Regions from separate parts of the Homo sapiens genome. Here all the other regions are linked to region 1. The links come from fine-mapping of genetic effects on gene expression. A gene starts in region 1. Each other region holds a variant in brackets. All regions are shown on one strand. Distances are from middle to middle. Region 1 holds the start of VAT1L (vesicle amine transport 1 like). Region 2 overlaps VAT1L (vesicle amine transport 1 like). Region 3 overlaps VAT1L (vesicle amine transport 1 like).

Region 1 (8,334 bases):
TCTACAATAATGTAAGAAATTCCACAACGGAGGCTCTGAGTGAATGTCCAAGGAATCAATTTTACAAATTAAAAATTGATTTATTGTGTTTATTTGGAGATATGCCATGCACTGTGGCTCTTTCCACGTTCCACCAGGGAGTACCAGAGTTGGGAATATTTAACAATAGTGGTATATAGGACTCAGAAGAGGGTATCTCCCCACCCCCCCACAAGCAGCACAGACTGTGGTGGGTTCTCTCTGGGTTGTTGTGATAATCAGCTGCCTACCAATTATAATCTGGGGTTTGTAAACAGCCAGAAGATTCCCTTGGAGGGAGTAATTATATTCCCTTTAACACACTGTAAGACAAACACTTTCTCTTTAACATGCTGTGTGCTGACTACAAAGTGGGTTTACTTTACTAATGCCAAAGGAAAACAAACACTCAGAACCAAGGCAAGGGACCTTGGTGGTACAGAGATAGTAGGCGGTGAAAAAAAAGAGCAGGGAACATTAAAAAATGCCATGGAGTATTGTCAATCAGGGGCAGAACTGGTTTGGCCTGTCCGTATAAACATGCATGATGAGATCTTAAGAGCACAGATTTGGAGTTGGTCTTCTATCTCATTATAACTAGCATGTTCCTTTGAGCACAATAATTCATCATGTTAAGATTCATTTTCATTTTCCTCTTCCATAAAGTGGGAATAGGAATTCTTACTCATGAGATTATTTTCAGAATCAAATTAAGAAATATACCTACAGTGTCTAGAACAGTAGACACCTCCAAAACAATAACATATATTGCAGATATTATTGGTGCCAAAGCTATGTCTCCATGGAATTCATCATTCCATGTATAAAATGATAGCTTCCTGCAAAGAGCATCCACAATTCTCTGCCTGGGGATTCTCTCAGCCCAAGTACATGGGACAGGATGGAAATGTCAAGGAGTTAACAATTCCAGGAACAGTTCTTGACCAATCAAGCATAGACTTTAGTGAATAAATACCTATGTCCTCACTCCTTGGGTGAGACAACTCTGAGACTTGTTCTACACTGTCTCTCAAATGTCCCCTGCGGGTTTGAGCTCCAATTGTCCACTGCGGTAATCTGCTTATTAATACATCTCATATTGGGTAGTATCAATTTTCTGTCTCACTTTCCTACTTCCCAGCCAGAGCTTCCTGGGATTACTTCCAAAATAAACGACGGGTGTTCAAATTCTTGTTTCAGGACAGAATCCAGCCTAAACACTGTATCTCACAATGTAAACAAGACAAACAATTTGGACAATTGGATTCACAATAAAATGTTCAATTCACTAACCAAGCCCTATTCAGGCTTCTTTTAGCCCTCTTCCTTCCATCCCATGGCCATTGCCTCAGTTGGGACCATTCTCATTTATTTTGTTTCTTTTTGGGGATTTTTTTTTTTTTTTGCCTGCACTTAGTCTCTAACTGATCTCGATGCTTCCAGTAACTCTATCATCTAATCCATCACCCACTTACTGTCAAAGTTATTATCCTAAAATGCAGTTCTGGTAATGCTCTCCCCATGTTTTTGTTTTTTAAGCCTTTATGGCACCAATTGCCTCTGTGATTATGTCTTAAATTTTATAACCTGGTATGTGAGAACTTTCAAAAGCTGGTCCCAATAAACCTTTCAGCCTCATCTCCAATGATTGCTAAATACAGCCAATGTTCTGCCTACATAGAACAAACCAGAATCTCAAAAGCCCTTTTACCTGTTACCTTTCTGTGTTATTTGAATGAGCTTGCGACCTTTTCTGCCAGAAGAACCTGCCTTATCCTTCAAGGTCTAGCCCAAATGTTCCCTCCTCCATGAGAACTTCTCCAACTCTCTGGACCAGTTTTTCAACAGGCTGCCTCTGTGCATATTCTACTATGTACCAATCATGTATTAAGCCCTGGGAAAACCACGCTGGATAAAAGTAGAAATAGCTCCTGCTCACATGAAGTTCACAGTTGGATAAAGGAAACAGATATTATCAGGTAAACATATAAAAGTTGGCTACAAAGGGACATAAGTGTCTATAGTCAGGGAGGACACCAATCTGGAGGTTGGAGTGCCTCCCAACAGGAATGGACCCTTGAGGTGAGAACGAAGTAGGAGTTAACACCAGATAAAGGAGATGGAACACATACCCCAGGCCAAGGGGACAGCAGGTGCAGAACCCTGTGGAAGGAGGGAAAATGGCAATCGTCTTTTTTTTTTTTTTTTTTTTTTTTAAGGAATAGAAGACAAGGGCATTTAAAGCAGTGAGGCACAGGAAGAATGAGGGGAGAGAAGAGGCAGCACTTACATCATTCATTGTACCACATTTGTTGACTGTGTCCTTCATGCCTCATGCTCTGAAATTGACCTTTTCCAATATAAGGACCATGTCTCACTGAAATCATGTCCACCCCAGCACTTCACACAATATAGAAAAAAAAATCAATGTACCCAATTTATAGATGAGTGTGTTGAGGCTCAGGAAGGTTGAATGAGTTGCCCAAGATCTCAAGGCTGGCAATGGCATAGCAACTATAATAGAATATAGACCTACTTCCTCACCTGCATCTCTTTCCTTAAACTGCCCCTAGGAAAACCACGTCCTTCCCCATTATTTTATTTCAGAAATTCCAAGTTTTTCTATGAGCTGTTTTTCTCAAAGAGCCTGATAACAAAACAAAACGCCAGTTACTACTCTGTGTATGTGCATGCATGTTGGGGAGCGGGTACACACTGGTCTTCCGGGGATCAGAACACGAACAGGATCCTTTCTGGTACAGGATTCTTGTCTGAAGCCTCTTTAATAGCCCGAAATGGTGTGGGTGGTGAGAATTCGCCGTCGTAAGGAAGCCCCTGGTGATACCCAGCAAAGAGCATCCCGGCTGACCCTGCAGGTCTGGAGTGAAAAGACCCTGCACTGGACTCTTCAGGGCAGTGAGCGGGATCTCTAGTTCCCTGCTTCCCAAACCTCTCCGCCCTTCCACCCAAAACTGGCTGTTTGAGAAACGACCCAATTTCCCGACTATCCCGCCCAGCCTCGAAGATGGGAGGGAGAGAGGGCAACCTTGTCGCGGTAAGGCATCCTCCAGGCCCAGACATTAGTCTCGGTCCATTTCAAGGCACCCGAGCCTGTGCCGTATATAACCAAGTACTGGGCCCACAGGAAGGGGGATGACAGGGTGGTCTCTCTAGGCTCGTTTTAGTCACAGATCTTCGGCAAATTTGGGTTTAGGGCCGCGATCCCGACCCTAACTTGGGACTATTTCAGGAACTGGAGTTGAGGCTTCGTTGGGACAGGAAAGAAGGGTGGGGCGGGGGTGAAGCGCTTAGGGCACGGCTCTTGTGAGGATTACGGCGGAGGCTGTGGACCGCGGCGGCGCTCGCAGAGGCTGCAGCCATTGCACAGCCGAGCATCCCACATTCAACAGGAGGAACCCGCGGGAGAGGAGCCCCACTCCCCCAGCGCCGCAGCCACCGCAGCCACCGCAGCCCGTGCGCCCCGCGCCCTCGAGCGCCATGGCCAAGGAAGGCGTGGAGAAGGCGGAGGAGACGGAGCAAATGATCGAGAAGGAGGCAGGCAAGGAGCCGGCGGAGGGCGGCGGCGGCGACGGCTCGCACCGCCTCGGGGACGCCCAGGAGATGCGCGCGGTGGTGCTGGCTGGCTTCGGGGGGCTCAACAAGCTGCGGCTCTTCAGGAAGGCCATGCCCGAGCCTCAGGACGGCGAGCTCAAGATCCGCGTCAAAGCCTGGTCCAGTATCCGCGCCTTTCTCGCTTTCTCTCTTTTTGCGCGCTGGGCGCTGGGGAGGGGGTGGGAAAGCTGCGGCTGGGATGCTGCCCGGGTAGAACCGCCGCGCGCACCCCCTCCGCGCCCTCACCCGGGTCTCAGAGCCTCCCCGGGCCAAAGCTGGGGAGGATGCAGAGGGGCGGCCTCCCCAAGCCAGATCTAGGGGTGACGGGAGGAGAATGTGAGCTCCTGGGCGCGGGGAGAATGCTGGCGCCCAGGCACCCCGGGTCTGGAAGATTGCGCTACGGGAGTTCTCCGTCTGAGAGGACAACTCAGCTTTCGCACGGGAGGGTTGATGCTTAACAGAATTAAAAATATATGTATTAAGAACCGCAAGCCCACTGTGTGCCAGCCGCCGTTGGTAGTTTTACACGTGCGATCTTATTTAATACTTCCTGGGACCTAATGAGTCAGGTGCCATCATGATCCGTTTACAGGTAAGAAAGCCGCCGCTCAGCGAGAATGAGTGATTTGCCCAAGATCAGTCAGCTGCCACTAAGTGGCTTGGCCGGGAATTTGATACATGATCTTTTTTCACCTCTATGCTGTTGTCCTGAAGGGCCTGGGACAGGGTGCAGGGCTGGATCCCGCCTCCTGCCCACTTCCTTCCCCGTAGCCTGACGGGGAAAGGAACTAGGAAGGAAGAGGGTCGGTACCTTGCACCCAGGCTTGGTGAGGGTGGAGACCAGGGCTGCAGCGCAACCCCCTCCATGCCCCTCTCCATCCTCTGTTTCTCCGAGAGGGGAAAAAACCCTGATCAGTCTCCCCGGAATTCCTGGTCCCATCTCAGAAGGAGCTCAGCTCTCTAAGCTGCCCTCTATTCCCCATTCCCCCTGGGGGAACTTCTCCAGGCCCTCACGCTCAGCTGAAATTCCCGGGGAGAGTTTAAGCCTCTCTGTGTGCGGGCACTGTAATTTCCCTGAAGTTCTGGGAAGAGCTTACCCAGCAGAGGCGGACTGGACCCAACACTAGGTTTGCATGTTAAACTTGTAAGGGGAACTTGCTATTAATCACGGTGAGACGAGCCTATTCCTTCCCATCTGTTTTCTAGAGCCCCCCAGTACATACTGCTCTCCAAAGCAGCAGCCAGCTCACGAGCTTCTAGGTTAGATCAGAAACCCAATATCTGGACCTCTCTAGAGGCACGAGAAATACAAACGAGGGTCCCCTCCCGTTCACCACCTTGAGAACAGACGCAGGTTTCATCGGCCAGATTAGAAAGCAGCTAGTGGGAGAAGCAGCCGCTGATCCCTGCCTTGCTGCTCATATATGCAGCTGGTCAGGTTTGACTCTGAACACGACTCGTGAGTCTCTGTGGGGAATTCCGGGTAAGGGAAGAGGCTTTTGCAAACCGGGGGATCCTGTACAATAAACTCTTATTGAACCAAGTTGTTTGATCCCAGAAGGAGAGCTTATATCTGCCCTTTCGCAGCTAAATCCCCAAAGACCAGCCCACTCCCCCACCCCACACTGTTTGGCCCACTGCACATCCTAAATAAGTTATCGCTGAATGAATGGATTGAGGAAAGAGCTCGGAGGAGGATTGTTGGGTCATTATTTTTCTTTACTTGCTGGTGGAAGAGCTTTTGCTTAGTACAATTAAAACCATGCATTTAGAACTCTCCTTCCTTAACCACTTCATCAAAAAAAATTACCTGTATACACACACCTATGCATATATGTGCATATACATATATACAATTATATATACAGTTGCATATGTATGCGTATGTAATTTATGACCCTTCATCCAAATTGAGGATGGGATTCTAGGATTCTAGAGTACATATTCAGAGAGGGAAAATGATAAAACTACTTTTTAAAGGAAAGAGCATCATCTGCAGTACACATAGTTCTGTGTTTTCCAGTCTTATGTTAACTGCATAATTGCTGATAGGAACTGAAGCATTTTGAAATAATAAATGTCAAGATGAAGGCCAAGAGATTGATTTTCAAAGCCAGATGTGAAAGCCTGTTCTTCAGTGGCGCTACACACACACACACAGAAATCACTGCACTTCCCCGACCCTAGTTGTTCAGAAAGCCAACCAGGCTGCAGGTACATTTGGAATACAGTGTTGCAAACAGCCCAGATTGATTTTCCTTTCACCAAGCTGGAAGCAGAGTTAATGGTTTTACAAGGAAGGATTGTAATAGGCTTGTAAATGGCCCACTGGGCAGCTCCTTCTCCTCTGGGCTGGGATTGGCTGGCCAGACATGATCATTGATTATAAGTTTTAGCCTTGGGATACAGGATGACTCATTCTGTATTTTTATGAATCAGCCGATGGCTTCCTGGATGATGGTCTCCCTTTTATCTGCTCTCTATTTTTAATAGAAACCTTTTTGTCATAATAGGATATGCTTTTTGCTTGGAATAAAGCATAGTCCATTTGAACCAGTATTAGACAGACCTGGAATGACGTTCCAAGTTGGCTATGAATTTTATGAAAATGGAAGAGATGAGGCAGGAAGAAATATCCATTTTATATCATGGACCCTTTTTCATTAATGCGCCAGTGAGATGGGTATTTTTCCTACAGAACAGAAGAGCAAATTGAGGCTTGGAAACATTGAGTAATTTGCCAAAAACATCAAAAAATAGTAGACTTAGGATTTGAATCTAATTCTCCTTATATTTTTGCTATTTTCCTTTTATTCCATTTTTGTCTCCCTTGGTGGAAAAGCCTTAGCACATGTGATTCCCCTCTTAGCATGCAGTCTCACTTTCTTTCCTTTCTCCACCGAAGATGGTTCCTTTGCTCTTTTTGTGTCTGGCTTAAGAGAATATTCTCTAGCTATTTCCAAAGTAGTATGGCTTTCTCCAGAAAGTAGAGACATTTTGGTCAAATGCAGCTCAAAAAGAACTGTTGCTGGGGTCAGGGTTGGAATGATAGCAGAGTCTTCTGTCTAAATTGTTTTTTAAAATGTCAGTTTTGATGGCAGATGGATTTCACCAATTATTCATGGAATACTTTACGCAACAAGAGGTTTAAGTGACCAGGTGGAAAAAGCATGTGGCCCTTGAAGAGAGAGGGACTTGAATATAAGCTTAAGCCTCATCTCTTCCTATCCATATGCCCCTGGGGGATGTGTCTCAGTGTCTCCAAACTTCCCATACATTATCTGCAAAGTGGGGATAATAAAATGAACTTCATGGTATTGTTGAAAGGATCAGATGCAAGAAAGACACTGCCGCGTTGTCAGCATTCAATAAGTAGGATTCATTGTGACTGTCGTTGTTGCCATATCTAAACCAATGTGATATATGCTGCTTGGTGACCTACAACTTGGAGGCCATCATTTTAATCATGTATATAATATAGGCAATATCATGTCACATCTGCTTAGTGATTAAGAGAGCTTCCTAGACATGAGTCCCAGCTCTGATACTTGCTAACTGGATGTCTTAGGTCTGGCTCCTTGGAGGCAGAACCTGACGCAGGGATCCTTTTTCAGGTGGTTTATTGAAAGTGTGCTTTTAGAACTATGGGAGCAAGGGAAGCAGGCTAGGGAAGAGGAAGGAGTTAAGCAAAGATGTGGTCTTAGCTGGATCCCACTGCAGAGTCAGTCTCACCTTGAAGCAAGGAACAGAGGGAGCCTTGTGTGTCATTGGCTGTGAGCTACTTTCTAAGTGGGGACATTGAGCCTCTCAAGCAGAAGTGGCTTCTATCTGACTGAGCAAAATTCTCTAGGGAAAGGGATGACTCTGAGGCTTGAGCATCCAACACTTCCAGCAGTTTGGGGATGGGCACCTGCCCATAGACAGGATCTGGGTGAGGTACAAACCACGCCTTCTGGTTGGCCTTGGCCATGTTGTTGTTAAAAACATGTTAACAAACTTCTGTTTCCCGGACTATAAAATAGAGCATCCATTTTATAATAGCATCCCCCTTCATAGTATTGTAATGAAGCTTAAATGACATGCCATATACAAAGACCTTTATAAGGATGCCTGGTGCTTAGCAAGCAGTCAAAAAATGATAACCATTATTATCTAAACTTTTACTTTTGGTTGCCGTATAAACTTTAGTTTATTATTCAAACTGGAACTCTTGTATTTTGAGACAGGCATAGCAAGTAGTCAAAAAATGGTAACCATTATTATGTAAACTTTTACTTTTGGTTGCCATAGATACTTATATAGTTTATTATTCAAACTGGAACTCTTATATTTTGAGACAGGGTCTTGCTCTGTCACGCAAGGTGAAGTGCAGTGGTGTGATCATGGTTCACTGCCACCTTGATCTCCCTGGCTCAAGTGATCCTCCTGCCTTGACTTCCTGCATAGCTGGGACCACAGGCATGTGCCACCGTGCCCAGCTAATTTTTTTTTAATTTATTTTTTGTCGAGACAGAGTCTATGTTGCTCAGGCTGGTTTCAAACAAACTGAACCTCTTCTGAAAGCAGAAGGGGCACTATTTATAATTACTCCTACATAGGAGAAGCTACAATCATAAACTGGAACTGTCTTAGGCAAACCAAGGTGTATGGTTCGCCCCTAACTGATACAAGTCAGAACTGTGCCTTTGCTGCTATCAGTCTTGT
Region 2 (8,000 bases), 140 kb after region 1:
GCTGAAACCCCCTCCCCATGGAGCCAGGATTTAAACCTAAGTTTGCCTGACTTTCCAACCCATGCCACTCTCACTGTGCCAGTGGCCCTCAAAGTGTGCACTGTGAACCACCTGAGTTGGAATTCCTGGGGAGCTTTATAATGCAGATTCCGGGACCTCAACCCAGACCTGTTTGTTCAATCTTCGTTGACGTCTACAAGCACTAAATCTTCAGAGCCACCACTGTACCTTGCAGCCTGTTAAAAGTCAGCAGTTCCTTGCCACAGTGGTGGGCTTTGGAGAGTTCTCCCAGCTCTCAATTCCTCCTTCAGCAGGAGACCCTGCAACCTGTGTGACCCCCCGAACCTCGGCTTCTGGAGGACAATTCTGAACATCCGTTAAAAGGAATAACTTTGGCTGGGCGCAGTGGCTCACGCCTGTAATTGCAGCATATTGAGAGGCCAAGGTGGGTGGATCATGAGGTCAGGAAATCGAGACCATCCTGGTTAACATGGTGAAACCCCGTATCTACCAAAAATACAAAAAATTAGCTGGGCATGGTGCCGCGCACCTGTAGTCCCAGCTACTCAGGAGGCTGAGGCAGGAGAATAGCTTGAACCCTGGAGGCAGAGGTTGCAGTGAGCCAAGATCATGCCATTGCATCCTAGCCTGGGAGACAGAGCAAGACTCTGTCATGGATGAATGAATGAATGGAATAAACTCAGGGGCCCAGAATCAGGTCTTAAAATCTTGGTCCCTGGAAAGATTGATGTTAACAAAATTAAGCCAGCATCCTCACCTATCAGGTTTTTTCTACTCTCTGTTGGACTTCTGTAGAATTTCTTTGGTATTTTTCAGAAGCCAGCCTCCTGCCTAGTCACACAGCTTTCTCCTCCGGGCCTCAGTTTCCCAATCTGTAAAGTGAGGGAGATGGACAAAGGCTTCTCCCAAGCCTGCTTCTTTCTCAAAGTTGGTACCCAGGGTGGCTTCACACAGTTTTTGAAAACAAAGTGCCTTCACTACACTGGGGAGAGAGGAAAACAAAACAAAACAAAACAAAAGCTGCTGTGAAAACCATCCCAGGATAGCTCATATGAGCTTAGCAGCCGACACACTGGTGTGTACAGGACCCATTTGTCAAGCTGACTGTCTCTCCACAAGCTTGGATTTCTCCCTCATGGTCTGGGGTCTGCCTTCCCCCCCTCCCTTCCCCCAGTAAAGATGAGGAAATCTATTTATGCAGCTCTGAAACTAGACACACAAGAAGTTGCATCCCCACTGGTTCTTACCAGCTGTGAGACACTGAGCAACTGATTCAACATCTCTGAACCTCCTTGTCTCCATGTGTACATAATACAGATGTCAGCTGGCATCCCCCTTTCTCCCGGAGAAGCTATATTGACTCAGACACCCCCGAGTCAATGTTGTGGTCTTTGAAAGTCTGAAACTCTTCCTTCAATATTTGCTATTTTCTAGGGCTTATGATCTGGAGGTTTTCCTCATGACTGCAGGCAGGATCTCTTTTTCATGCAGGACCACCCCAGCATCAAGCTCAGCCTCTTCACTGGGTCCCATAAGATGCCCCTCCCTGGCACACATATCAGGCATTTTAAGCTTTAGTGTATGAGAGCCGGGAATGAGCACATCAAAATGCACAAACTCCCAGCCTTCTCCAAGCTTCCACCCACTTCTTATTTTCCTTCCTCCCCACTGTTTTTTTTTCCTGAGACAGAGTCTTGCTCTGTCATCCAGGCTGGAGTGCAGTGACACAATCTCGGCTCACTGCAACCTCCGCCTTCCAGATTCAAGCGATTCTCCTGCCTCAGCCTCCCAAGTAGTTGGGATTACATACGTATGCCACCACACCCACCTAATTTTTTGTATTTTTAGTAGAGACGGGGTTTCACCATGTTGGCCAGGCTGGTCTTGAACTCCTGGCAAGTGATCTGCCTGCCTTGGCCTCCCAAAGTGCTGGGATTACAGGCGTGAGCCACCACGCCTGGCCCATTTACCCTTATTTTCATATCCCCTCAACCCAGACTCCAAGACCTTCAATTTTTCCCCCTCTGTCTAGCAGGGTAATGTCTCAAGAATATCAGCAAATAAATTACCTAAGCCCTGGGTAGAGAGATAGCCAGCTCAGTCTCTGTACCTTTTCATTTTACTAAAGGATTTCTTTCCAAATACATGGCCCTTTCCATAAGAATTAAGATATGTAAAACTATCTCTGTCTAATAGTGTATGCATTAAAGGTAAGAATACTCACCCACAAGGCTTTTGAGAACATGGGTGGTCCGTTATGTAAAGCTCCTCATGGAATGTTCAGCTTATAGGTAGTCCTCAAAATTAGTAGCTTTTGCCTTCCCTACCACCAAGCAATGGTTACTGCCAGGGCACACTAGGGTCAGGCAAGCAAGGTACCTAGTGTACACAATTTAAGGAGGCACTCACTCTCAGGTTCACGTGCAGCCTGGAGAGTGAGGGCCTCCTTAAATTTTACACCCCCTGGTCTTTCTCTTGCCTAGTCCTGGCCCTGGTTGCAGAATTGGCCAAACCATCTACCCCTTCTGGTTATCTGAATCTGACAAATGTGAATTTGATCCCAGCTTTACCAAATAGTCACTAATTTCACCTCGATCAAGTGGCTTGAGTTTCAGCCTACCATTTACAAAATCAAGCTAATAATACCCCTTAGTGGAAAGGGTTGTTTCGGGGTATTAAAGAGGTCCATATATGCAATGGCGCTTCAATCAATATTGCTTTTCTCTGCCCAGAGTCAATATAAGAACAAAAGATTATTTCAGCTTTCCACGTTCTAGCGTTTTCACTGCTTCCTTTAATAAAATGAACTCAGCAGGAGATGAGACTAGCTAGCCCAGAACTGTTTTTACAGTTTCCCTTCCTAAAATCAATTTTGCTTTTCCCTCGTTCTGCAGATGACGTAAAATCTAGAGAGACTACAGGAAATTGAAAGAATAAAATAGATGGTGATCCTGCAGAGTTGTTGCTGGGTTACAGAAAAGTGCCTTTTGAGAAATCTA[C/T]CAAACAACATAAAAAGCCAGAAGCAGCATCTTCCTTTAATTCCCCCCACCTCCCCCTGCTTCTGGCTTTGAAAGTCCTTGACCATGAAGCTGCCTAGATGCTTTATTGGGTCCTTGAGTGATCAATGGCATGTATGCATTTGATCCTTTACTGCTGATAATCTGTCATTAAAAAATAGGAGTCGGGGCCGGGTGCGGTGGCTCATACCTGTAATCCTAGCACTTTGGGAGGCCGAGGCGGGTGGGTCACGAGGTCAGGAGATCGAGACCATCCTGGCTAACACTGTGAAACCCCGTCTCTACTAAAAATTAGCCAGGCATGGTGGCGGGCGCCTGTAGTCCCAGCTACTCAGGAGGCTGAGGCAGGAGAGTGGCGTGAACCCGGGAGGCGGAGCTTGCAGTGAGCCGAGATCGCACCACTGCACTCCAGTCTGGGCAACAGAGTGAGACTCCGTCTCAAAGTAAAAAAAAAAAAAAAAAAAATAGGAGTAATAAAATAGGAGTTGGGCCAGGCACGGTGGTGCACACCTGTAATCCCAGCACTTTGGGAGGCTGAGGCAGGCAGATCGCCTAAGGACAGGTGTTTCGAAACCAGCCTGGCCAACATGGTGAAACCCCATCTTTACTAAAAATACAAAAGTTAGTAGGGTGTGGTGGCAGGCGCCTGTAATCCCAGCTACTCAAGAGGCTGAGACAGGAGAATCGCTTGAACCTGGGAGGCAGAGGTTGCCATGAGCTGAGACTGCACCATGCACTCCAGCCTGGGTGACAGAGCAAGACTCCATCTCAAAAAAAGTAGAAGTAGGGGTAAGAGCTAAAAGATACGGTGGTTGATTAAGGACATGGAAGTGTGGCCAGGTTTTCTAAAGAGTATTTCAGGATAAAAACTAAGGTTGACTTCACAGTCCTCACCAACCTCTATGCCCCACTAATGACTCTTCTGAGCAAATCACTGCCCCCTCTAGAACTCTGGCTGAGCCTTTGTTTCCAGCACTGAGACACAGACATGTCCCATTCCGCTTGCAGTCTCCCTTGGTGGGGACACCCTCCCTCCTTCCACATGTGACCTAGAAAGAGACTCTGGCTTCTTGGGCCACTCTATCGTGGCTACCCCTGAAGTTAGAAATCCACCAATCACTTCCTCCAGATTGTCAAGGACCATTACACATTTACATATGCTACCTCTCTGGTTAGGAATGTAGAAGACAACATAACAGTCATAGGCTATTTCCTGAGGAATTAGTACACATCAACACTGTTATGGCCCGGCGCGGTGGCTCACGCCTGTAATCCCAGCATTTTGGGACGCCGAGGCAGGAGGATCACCAGGTCAGGAGATTGAGACCATCCTGGCTAACATGGTGAAATCTCATCTCTACTAAAAATACAAAAAATTAGCCAGGTGTGGTGGCGGGCACCTGTAGTCCCAGCTAGTCAGGAGGCTGAGGCAGGAGAATGGCGTGAACCTGGGAGGCAGAGCTTGCAGTGAGCCGAGATCGCGCCACTACACTCCAGCCTGGGTGACAGAGCGAGACTCCATCTCAAAAAAAAAAAAAAACACTGTTGGGAGGGCTTTGCATATAGTGAGTACTACTGTTGTCCCTACTTTACAGATGAAGAAACTGAGGCTCAGCAACTAGTAAGAAGTACAAACAGGATCAAAACCAATTGATCCATCTCCAGAATCTGCACTCTTTAGCCACTAGCTTTTGCTGTCATCCTATGGCCACCCTAGGTACACCCATTCATTTGCATCAGGCCGCCTGTCCTGATTTGCACCTCAAAAAAATTGAAAAACTTTGGCCAGGCGCGGTAGCTTTTGCCTGTAATCCCAGCACTTTGGGAGGCTGAGGTGGGCGGATCATGAGGTCAGGAGTTCGAGACCATCCTGGCTAACACAGTGAAACCCCGTCTCTACTAAAAAATTAGCCGGGTGTGGTGGCACACGCCTGTAGTCCCAGCTACTCGGGAGGATGAGGCAGGAGAATCGCTTGAACCCGGGAGGTGGAGGTTACAGTGAGCCGAGATCACGCCACTGTACTCCAGTCTGGGTGACAGAGACTCCGTCTCAAAATAAATAAATATAAATAAATAAATAAACTTTTCAATTTCCTTTGAAAATTCTTACCACTAGTATCCCTGATCTACAGTTCTGACTCTCTTTCTGCATGGAAATCAAAAGTCATTTGACCTCTAATTCAATCCTTCCCATTAGGATGGGATGCCTCTTCCATACAATATCAGAATAATAAAACAATGCAGTATCTTCAGTGTCTACTGGGCTCAAGTGGGCCATTTTCACAGCAGGCCTTATTGACAAAGTCATTTTAATATTGTTTAGTTCAATCAAAGACCCCAGAGCTGGCCTCCTTTTGTAAAGATGAACCAGAGCAAGACCTGGCTCTGGTTCATTTGTGACCTGAGAAGTCCCAGGGAAGCCAACATCTCTCTGGTCACCAGGCTTCCCTCTAGCAAATGTGTGTGTGGAGAATGCTAAATGAGAAAAATTACATAATTGCTTAACACACTTGTAAAAACTCAGCTGTTTGCTAATCCTGCTATTGTGACTGCTATTATTTCTCTCTTATGATTATTCCATCATGGTTGGGGGAGAATTCAGGGATGGAGGGAGATGGTCACTCATCTTTTAAAAGATCAAGTATTGAGATTTTTCATAACACTATCCTGTGAGAGACAAAAGTCATAGCTGAATCTTCCATAACTGTCATCTCAGAAACCGCTATCTTGGATGTGATGTGACAACCAACATTTCCTCTTAAATAAGGCATTTGTAGCCCTCCCCTTGACCATAGTGATATTTAAAGAAATTTCTGTAATCAAGGAAATAAGATTTGAAAGCAAGCCCCTCGTAAATGACGTGTTTCATATTACTCACCAAAATCAGTAACAAAAACAATTACACAAAATGTCTTAAATTGATGGGGGTGTCAGGAGAGTAAGAATTTTTTTTTTAAATGACTGTTGAAGTCTTCTAAGTCACTGTGCCAGTATGCTCTATTTTCGTTTGTTTGTTTGTTTTTGAGATGGAGTCTCACTCTGTCACCAGGCTGGAGTGCAGTGGTGCAATCTCAGCTCACTGCAACCTCCCCTTTCCGGGTTCAAGCGATCCTGCCTCAGCCTCCCGAGCAGCTGGGACTACAGGTGCGCACCACCATGCCCCGGTAAAAGTTTTTGTATTTTTAGTAGAGATGGGGTTTCACCATGTTGGCCAGGATGGTCTCGATCTCTTGACCTCGTGATCCGCCCCCTTGGCCTCCCAAAGTGCTAGGATTACAGGTGTGAGCCACCGTGCCTAGCCGCTCTATTATTTTTATGCTGTGTGATACTGATGTACTTTGAATGCTCTCTATTTGAGCTCTGCATTCTCTGGATTGATGGAACGCGACATTTTTCTTTGTCTCCAGAAATTCCCCCTCTCCTTCAATAATGAGTCTCTAGACTTAGTACTGCCTGAACAGCGGGATACTCTCTTCCAGGCAGGGATCATTAGTGAAAGATTGGCAACATTTTCTCAACACTGGTAGAAAGAGGAGTTATATGAGCCCTCTGTGCATGTGTTTTTAGGTACATGTATTTGTATTAGGCCCTAGGGAGTTTCAAGACAAGCTGAATTTCCTTCAGTGTTTAATACTTCATAAATAAAGCCTTATTAGCAATTCTCAGCTCCAGCAAATCATGGATGTATTCCAGAGAACATTTAAAATATAAATGTAATTTCAAGTGGAAGAAAAGAGCCCCATTTTTCCAAATAGTCAACATATCTCAAGACACTAACATTTTCAGGACGGAGAGGGTGACAGATAGGGAGTCAGATGGGAATGCTTTGGTGAGATAGAGAGCCCTCACAGAAAGAAACAAAGGCCACTCTCCCCCTCACTACATGCTTAAATACTCACAAGGTGACATGAGGTAGGTGTTGGAATTATCCCCATTTTATATTTGATGAAACATTTACAGGTTAAGCAAACTGTCCGAGGAGACCCAGATAATAAGTGGAAGAACTGGTATCGGAAGTTAGCACAGTAACTCAAAAACTGCCCTCTGGCTGGGTGTGTAATCCCAGCACTTTGGGAGGCCTCAGCAGGATTACTTGAGTGGAGGAGTTTGAGACTAGCCTGGGCAACACAGCGAGTTCTCCAAGTCACTGTCCTCTTCAACATGATATATTTTTCTTCCTGCGTGCCTTTCCAGAAAAGATGTCTTATTTCCAAATGAACCTCCAACCAATACCCATAGCCCATACTCCTTATCCCTTTTAGAAGGACCTACCTTCCAGCCCAAACTTCGTATCCTTCTTGAAACAAACCACCCACACCCCTCTTTCCAGCCCATATTCCATGTCTTCCTTGGAATGAACCACAAGCACCCACCCCCAACACATATTCCTTATTGTTGTTGAGATGAACCACTGAATTCGACCCCTAGCCTGTATTGTCTGTCTTTCCTGGTCATGCATGGCCTCAGTGAAAGCCACTAGGTCTCTCCCATGAGTATCATTACTGATGTTCTTTGGGGGGACATGGCTTAGCTGTTTCCAAACAATGGCCAATTCCACCTACCCCATCCATTGATCCTATCTCTTACCTCGGGGAGAAGGGCCCACAGGAATTTAGTCTGGCCCTGTCCTTTGAATGGCTCTCTGCAGTGGCAGGTAAGACTGGTACGGAAGGAGGTGTGAGGTAGATAACCCCTCGCTGAATCAAACTCAAAGAGACTCTCAATCCGGACTCAACGTTCTTGACAGGTTCCAGGGCCCGTGCCCCGCTTATATCTCAAGGTAGGTTCCGTAGCACTCAATAAAACCCTCTGCAAGGTATGGATCATCATTTGGTGGTTGGATAATCCTAATCTCAGGGTGTTGAAAGCCCCCACTGTTAAGAAAACCTTCAGTCTTCTTCCCAGGAAATGGACATCTCCTCTTGGCCTGCTCCAACATGCAGAGTTGTTCAAGGGGGCATG
Region 3 (8,000 bases), 93 kb after region 1:
CTTTGAAGTGGACGTGTGGTTTATTATTATCAGTGAGAGTCCCTGCACGTTGCAAGGATATCGGATATGACTAACATGTGAGTCAAATGCAGATGGACGATGTAGTCATCCTTACTTATCATTTACCAATAATTCTATTTTTGTCCCAGTTTCTTGATGTCATTTTGGTGAAATTCAACTTGATTAATCCCATGTGAGTAGTTCACAATTATCTACTTCATTACGTTGATCACTTGGTCACTAATTAATCAAAGTCTAGTACTGGGATGCCCCGTGGTACTCACCCCATAAAAACAGAAGCAATGGTTCACTATTATGCTGGTGTAAGGGTAATTGCAGTCTTCGGCATTAAAAGTAATGGCAAAAACCACAGTTACTTTTGCACCAACTTATTAACTGGCTACTAGTTTACCCAGGCTAAATAGTGTAAAATACACATGACTATTTTATTAAATAACTCCTCTCTGAGAAGAAATTACTCCAAAATCTTTGAAGACAAGGCAGGAAAGTTGTTGAAAAAGCACCTGTATGGTATTTGAATGTTCCCCATACTGTTAAGAGCTCTCTCATTCCCCCCTCCCCTGCCCCGAAACCTTATAAAGGGTCTTTACTCTCCGTATGAGAATCTTAGGGAATCTTTCCCAACTCCACCTCCCATCTGCCCTCTGAATACTGCTTGTCCAATTGGCAAAACTCAGTTTCTCATATGCTTGTCTCAGACCTCTTTGGAGCTGACACATGGATCACACCATTTCTTTGGTCCCTGGGCCCCTTTTCATTCTCACCTGTGAGCTTCTATACCCATTTTTTCCAATCCATCTATATTTTAACTCTGCTCCACCTCTCCCACCATTTAGGTACCCAGTCCAGGTCAGAGCCCCAAGCCCCTCACTTGCTGGGGAATCAAATTCAGAATCACAAAGTAGATTCACTAAGGAGTTCCTTTCTCAGCCTCAAAGAACAGACCTAAAAAGACATTTCAGCAACTCATCATTTTATTCAAACGTTGGCCTACATCATATTTTTGCTATATGCCAAATTTTGCAAAGTAATAAGACGGTCATCATGAGAAATGTCACTTTCTCTTTGATCAGGGACAGTCAGCTAACATAGTCAACTTTATGCCTCATTCTCATTCCCCTCACTTTGCCAAGGCTTAATTAAATTTGTTTTCAAGATTTCTCCAGTTCCGGACCAAACAATTGCCATTTTTTTCATGCATAACAAGAGATGTCCATTTTCATTAGCAATTGCTTAATGTGGGAATCTTTCATTTTCAGGCTCATCCAACATGGTAACTGGAGAGACCAAGAGCTTCTTCAGCTTTGCAAAATCAGTAAGTATCCAGGCACATCTGATGTACTGTGGTGGCATGTTGATTCACATGTTGAGAGCTTTGTTTTTGTTTGTTTGTTTGTTTTGAGACAGCGTCTCGTTCTGTCACCAGGCTGGAGTGCAATGGCACGATCTCGGCTCATGGCAACCTCCGACTCCCTGGTTCAAGCGATTCTCCTGCCTCAGCCTCCCTAGTAGCTGGGATTACAGGCATGCGCCACCATACCCAGCTAATTTTTGTATTTGTAGTAGAGACGGGGTTTCACCGTGTTGGCCAGGATGGTCTCAATCTGACCTCGTGATCTGCCCGCCTCAGCCTCCCAAAGTGCTGGGATTACAGGCGTGAGCCACCGCACCCAGCTGTGAGCTCTTCTATCATAAGGCATTGACTTAATCTTGTCTTTCAATTTCCTCGTTCATTTCCCATAAAACCTGCACTCCTGCCCTATTCCCTGCAAATGGTCAGGACCAGAATTTAGACTACTTTTGTCTAAATGAAACAGAGAGGTGGGAGTGTCAGAGAAACTCAAGAAAGCTACAGCTTTATTTCAGTCAAAATTGCTTAAGTGTTGGTGTCTTTAATTATTGGTCAAAAATGAACTTAGCATTAGTGCATTTTCTTTGCTCCATAGAGCGGCCAGCCTTTCACTTTGCTACTTTCTGACCAGGTCTCTGGGGGTACTTGAGATTTCTCTGTCTCCCCATCCTCTTGAATCGGAGATAGAAATGAGGACCCTATGACCTTAACAAGATCCTGAGGTGACTTGTAGACTCAGACAAGCTCATGAACCACTCTCTTGGGTGATCATGCTTTCAATATGGTGGTTAGTTTGTCGGCCATTGCAAAGCGACATCCCTGGGCATTCACCTCACTACAAATTGACTCTGATCTATCTTCCTATCTGGAGCTATACTTGCTAGAATTATACTGATGTTGGCTTGAACTTTTTTGAGACCGAGTCTAGCTCTGTCACCCAGGTTGGAGTGCCGTGGCATGGTCTCGGCTCACTGCAACCTCCACCTCCTGGGCTGTAGCAACCCTCCTGCTTCAGCCTCCCAAGTAGCTGGGATTACAGGTGTGTGCCACTATACCCAGCGAATTTATGTATTTATTTTGGTAGAGACAAGGTTTCACCCTGTTACCCAGGCTGGTTTTGAATTCCCGGGCTCAAGCAATCCGCTTGCCTCAGCCTCCCAAAGTGCTGGAATTATAGGTGTGAGCCATCGTACTCGGCCAAACTTAGTTTTTTAAATATCATTTCAACACCCCTTCCCCAGCCCAAATTCCTTCTCTTCTTTGAAATGAACCACCAGTACACCAGCACCAGCCCATGTTGCTTTTTTTTTTTCTTCGCACGTTCCAGGGTATTTTTTTTTTTTTTTTTTTTTTAGTAATTTCAACTTTTTAGATTCAGGAGGTACCTGTGCAGGTTTTTTGCCCGGGTATTGTATGATGCTGAAGTTTGGGGTACAAATGATCCTCTCATTCACATAGTGAGCATAGTACCCAATAGTTTTTCAACCCCTGCCCCCCTCCCAGTCCCCTTTAGTGGTCTGCAGTGTTAACTGTTCCCATATTTATGTCCATGAGTACCCAGCTCCCACTTAGGAGAGAACATGCAGTATTTGTTTTTATGTTTCTGCATTAATTTGATTAGGAAAATGAGCTCCAGCTGCATCCACGTTGCTGCAAAGGACATGATTCCATTCTTTTTTATGACTGCATAGTATTCCATGGTGTATACGTCTCACATTTTATTTATCCAGTCCACCATTGATGGGCACCTAGGTTGATTCCATGTGTTTGCTATTGTGAATAGAATGGCAATGAACATACGGGTGCATGTGTCCTTTTGATAGAACGATTTACTTTCTTTTGGATATATACCCAGTAATGAGACTGCTGGGTCAAATGGTAGGAACTTTTATTTTTACCCCTCCCCAACAGGGGATTGCTGCTTTTCACAAGGGTTTATTTTTGCCCCCTCTACTTTTGGACTTCTATGTGCCAGTGCAGCGTCAATTGATCCACTCATTTGACAGGCATTTTCTGAGCACCTGCTGTTTGTGGTATTGTGCCAAGCACTGGGCTATTACAGCACATAAGATAGGTGCACTTTGGGCCTTTTTGGTTCTTATATACTAATGAGGGAGACAAACCCAAAATAAGCAAGATATGTTAATTAACATGATTATAAATGGCTATTAAACCTCTGAAGAGGATAAAAATCAAGTGCTAAAATAGAAAATAGCAGGGTGGGTGGAGGCAATTAAAACAAAGTGGTCAGTGAAAAGTATGGTAAGGAGTTTGGAATTCATTCTAAGTAT[G/A]GCACTATGTGCTATTCATATGCCCTCAAAGTGCCAACATCAGCTTCCAGAAACATCAGCCCCAAACATTCTGGAATGGATAATACTCCCTGCATTTGTGAGATTCAAATCAAAGGTCTTCTCTTTGCATTTGGGCTTTAAAATATGGGTCAAGGATCATCCTAACTACAGAACCGACAGGAGGAGCAAGAATGGAGTGTAATGAAGGATGCTGTCTGGAGTGTGTCCCCTGAAGACAGGCTTTGTGCCATGCACAGCTGCTCTGTTGCTGTGGCTGTAATTAACATGATGTTGACAGACTGCTGTGGGTAACCACACTGGTCCCAAATTACATACAATTGTAAGAAGTGTTTTCCCTTTCTCCTCTAAATGCACAATCCCAACACACAGTGTTAATGAAATAATTGCAGCGTGCCCATGCTCAATGAAGGCATTCATAAATGCACAGCCAGGATGGGGATGGAGATTCCTCTGCCCAAAGCAGGGGTTCCTATTTCCAGAACGCTTTGTACCTGGAGGTCAAGAATGAGGATGTTTTCTTTCAGAGGCCTGCTCAAACACTGAGGGTCATTTGGAAGAAAACTGAAGAGAGGGCCTACGAAGAGGTGGAACTTTGCTCTGAAAAGTCCTAGAAAAAAAATTTTTCAATGTATTCAAGAAGGGCTTAGAAATTAAAGGTCGACTGGAATTATACAGGAATTTCCCACTCAGCTATCTTAATGATGTTGCATCTTAAAATCGCTGCAGTTTGTGCCTCACTATTTGTCAAACATGCTATTTTCTTTCACACCATAACGATGATGATACTAATAGAAGAAGTTAACATTTACAGAGCAATCTGACTCCAAATTTGGAGCTCTTATTCACTAAACCAAAAACATCTTGTTCAAATTAAGATAATAAAAGTGGTGTATGTTTATAGAGCACCTCATGCGTGGCAGACACTGTGCTAAGCACTTGATATGCATTAACACATTTACTCCTCATAACCACCCCATGAGGAACAGTGAGGAAATTGAGCACAGAGAAGTTAAGAGATTTGCCTAAAGTCACACAGCTAGTAAGTGACAAAGCTGAGATTCAAAACTAGGCATTCAGCTCTATAACCTTCTTAACCACAACTGTACATTTGCAGCAAGCATTCATTCCACAAACATTCACTGAGGCATTGCAGATACACTGTGAATCAAGTTATTATTTTTCTATATTTGCTGTATTTCCCAAGTTGGTTTGTTTTAAATGAGGGTCCTAAAAATCACTGTCCCATAGAATAGAATTTTGGATGTAAGGAATACGTTAAGTTATTTAGTGATTTCCAAACCACATGCCTCACCACACCATCTGTGCCACAAACCCTTGCCAGGTAAGACCATCAAAACTGAAAGCCAAGAAACCTAAGGTCAAATGCGTGGCTCTTATTGGTCCCCCGGCCCTCTCCGAATGTGCTTTTGTAAATAATTTTGTATATGAACCTCATCATTGTTTTCAACCTGCCTTTTCCATGCTTATTCTCCTAGTGACACGAGCTTCCCAATTAAAAAAAATAAAAAATTTTCACTTTAGTCAGTCTCCTTAATTCTTTTCGAAAACAGGATATAAATGAGCTCAATGATAACATAAAGGCTATCAATGTTTCTAAATGCCCATCACATTCCTCTTTGCATCCTGTATTGAAATGATTTTGAACATCTTATCCCCTAGAATCCCCCAGAAACTGGACGCTTGGATTTCTAACCTATAACCAGCACCAAAGGAAAAGCAATTAAATCATAACAAAGCAGTTGGATCCCCATTTCTCTAGGTTTCCAGTGGATTATTTACTTATTTTGATATGAAGGGAGGAGATGACAGACTGGAAAAGAGATGGCCACATTAAATAGTTTGTAGGTATTTCACCCAGAACTTTAGTCCAGGGCATCTCGGCTTTAATGCTATGGATATTTGGGGCTGGGTAATTCTTTGTTGTGGATTATTCTTTGCTGTGAATATTCTTTGTCCTGAGCACTGTGGGATGTTTAGCTGCATCCCTGGCTTCCACCCACTAGACGCCAGTAGCACCACCTCCCGCTTCAGTCATCACAAACAAACAAAAATCCCCAAACAATATCAAATGCCTTCTGGGGGACAAAACTACCCCCAGTTCAGAACCATTGATTCAGTCCCAACAATTTGGCCTCATCATTTCTTCATGCTGTTACTTCTTCCTAAATCATCCCTCCTCCCTCTTCATCCGATGGATCCCTACCCGCCTCCCCAGATTTAGCCTTATCAAAACCACTCCCCCAGGAAAGCTGCTTCTGCAGTCAGAGTGGCCACCTCCATCATGTTCCCCACCACATTGTGTAAACTTTTCTGCCATCCTAGTTCCTTTAACAACCCCATCATCACCACCACCATTCACTGAGCCAAGTGCTTTATACTTAATCACAGAGAACGTTGTAGAGCCACGATTCAAGTCCGGAGCTGATGATCCTGACCATGTACTTAATATTTCAACTACATGTGGCCATGTAGTTAGTTTTGGGCTCTCTCTCCCACTTAGACCTGAGCGTCTCATAAGCATCAATGTCTATTGCTTCCCATGCACTTGCAACAGTGCCTAGAAAAATAGATGCTTTTAAAAAAAATACACCACTGTCCAAGGCGGGTGGATCACGAGGTCAGGAGTTCAAGACCAGCCTGGCCAAGATGGTGAAACCCCATCCCTACTAAAAATACAAAAATTAGCTGGGCATGGTCGTGGGCGCCTGTAATCCCAGCTACTCGGGAGGCTGGGGCAGAGAATTACTTGAACCCGGGAGGCAGACGTTGCAGTAAGCTGAGATCATGCCACTGCACTCCAGCCTGGGCTACAGAGTGAGACTCCATCTCAAAAAATAAAAATAAAAAATAAAATAAAAAAATACACCACCAAGAGCAACCCCTTGGCCAGCTGGAATCTGCTGAGCTGCAGCCCCACGTTCCCCCTGTAGTAGCTGATGACATCAGCAATGCTGCCAATGTAGGCTTAACCCCGGTATTGAGTTCCTATAACCCAATACCACCTCTCTTTGCAGTGGTGGCAGGTGGAGAAGGTGAACCCCATCAAGCTGTATGAGGAGAACAAAGTCATCGCGGGGTTTTCCCTTTTAAATCTGCTCTTCAAACAAGGCCGGGCGGGCCTCATTCGGGGAGTGGTGGAAAAACTCATAGGGCTCTACAACCAGAAGAAGATCAAGCCTGTGGTGGACTCCTTGTGGGCTCTGGAGGAGGTAAGAATGGTGCTTTTCTTCTGCAAATAAACTCCTCTTTTTAACTCAGGAAGGTTTGGGCAGCCAAATACAATCTTCTACTAAATGATTTTTTTCCCAGATGGGTTTGTTTTAAATGAGGGTCCTAAAAGTCACCTGTACCACAGAATAGTACTTTGGATATAAGAAATACTTTAAGCTCTTTGGTGATTTGCAAACCACGTGCCTCATCACACCATTTGTGCTCTGAACCCTTCCCAGGTAAGGCCACCAAATTTTGATCAATGTCTACAATTCGGTGTGGTTACAAGAGCATGTGTACATTGTTGAGGCATCATACATATTGTCACCTTGTGAGTACATAAGAGATCAGTGTCAGAGCAGACAGTGATCTGAGCTAAAATGATTTGTGTGCTCCGCTGGATGCCTTGAGCCCCGATGAGACATTAGCTATCACGATGGACTTTGGAATTACTGCTGAATTGTTGGGTCTAAAGTTGGATTGAGTCTTTTTGTTAGTTGATCTTCCAAAAGTTATAGTATTTGGAAGCATTCCTTGATCACAAGAACATTAAGAACCCCTAATGGAGCCTCGAAGGATACTGAAGCATGAACTGGTTGTATTGGTTCACATGGCCCTTGCTAGGAGAAGGCAGGGTCTAGAAAATCCTTCAAGTAAGGGGAAGGTTTGGGCATTTGGGGAGTCAGTTAATGGCAGCTCCTTGTAGAAGAAATGAAGAGATGTGGCCTGGATTTTAAGAGGCATTTCGCTAAGAAACCTAAGTCAAGATTTCTTAGCCTTGGCTTCAGGGAGCCATGACGCCCCTGAAAAATATTTTAAAATATGTGGGAATGTTTTTTTTTTCATTGTTTTGCATTTTGCATGAGGGAAGTGCCTTATGGTACAAGTACTTTGTTGTACTTTTGCAAGTCACAAATACTTTTTAAAAAAATAACAAGTACGAAAGTTCTAGTGGGTGTGCTTCTGGCAAGAAGGCTGTGTCTGTTTGCCTGAACGATTACATTGGCCCAAATCCAATGGCTTCTCTAAGCACAGAAATACCACTAGAAAGGCTCTTTGGGGGTCACTGTATATTCAAATACAAC

The links. PIP is the estimated chance that this variant, and not a neighbour inherited with it, causes the effect.
Region 2: its variant is fine-mapped to the expression of VAT1L in cerebellum (GTEx, PIP above 0.99).
Region 3: its variant is fine-mapped to the expression of VAT1L in tibial artery (GTEx, PIP above 0.99). The same link has a PIP of 0.9 or more in aorta and coronary artery.

What each region holds. Positions count from the first base shown.
Region 1 is chr16:77,785,167-77,793,500 of GRCh38, forward strand. It overlaps VAT1L (vesicle amine transport 1 like), which reads left to right and starts at 3,398. Exons shown (of 9, transcript NM_020927.3): 1 at 3,398-3,749. The coding sequence starts at 3,517. The region is part of intron 1 of LOC107984878 (a long non-coding RNA gene); the gene reads right to left.
Region 2 is chr16:77,922,775-77,930,774 of GRCh38, forward strand. The region is part of intron 7 of VAT1L (vesicle amine transport 1 like); the gene reads left to right. LOC105371351 (a long non-coding RNA gene) reads right to left here. Exons shown (of 3, transcript XR_007065123.1): 3 at 6,960-8,000. Among named protein-coding and RNA genes, the nearest start is that of CLEC3A, 96 kb to the right of the region's middle. The variant C/T (reference allele first, on the strand shown) is at 3,021.
Region 3 is chr16:77,877,889-77,885,888 of GRCh38, forward strand. VAT1L (vesicle amine transport 1 like) reads left to right here. Exons shown (of 9, transcript NM_020927.3): 6 at 1,281-1,336; 7 at 6,720-6,914. Among named protein-coding and RNA genes, the nearest start is that of VAT1L, 93 kb to the left of the region's middle. RefSeq lists an enhancer at 1-632. The variant G/A (reference allele first, on the strand shown) is at 3,664.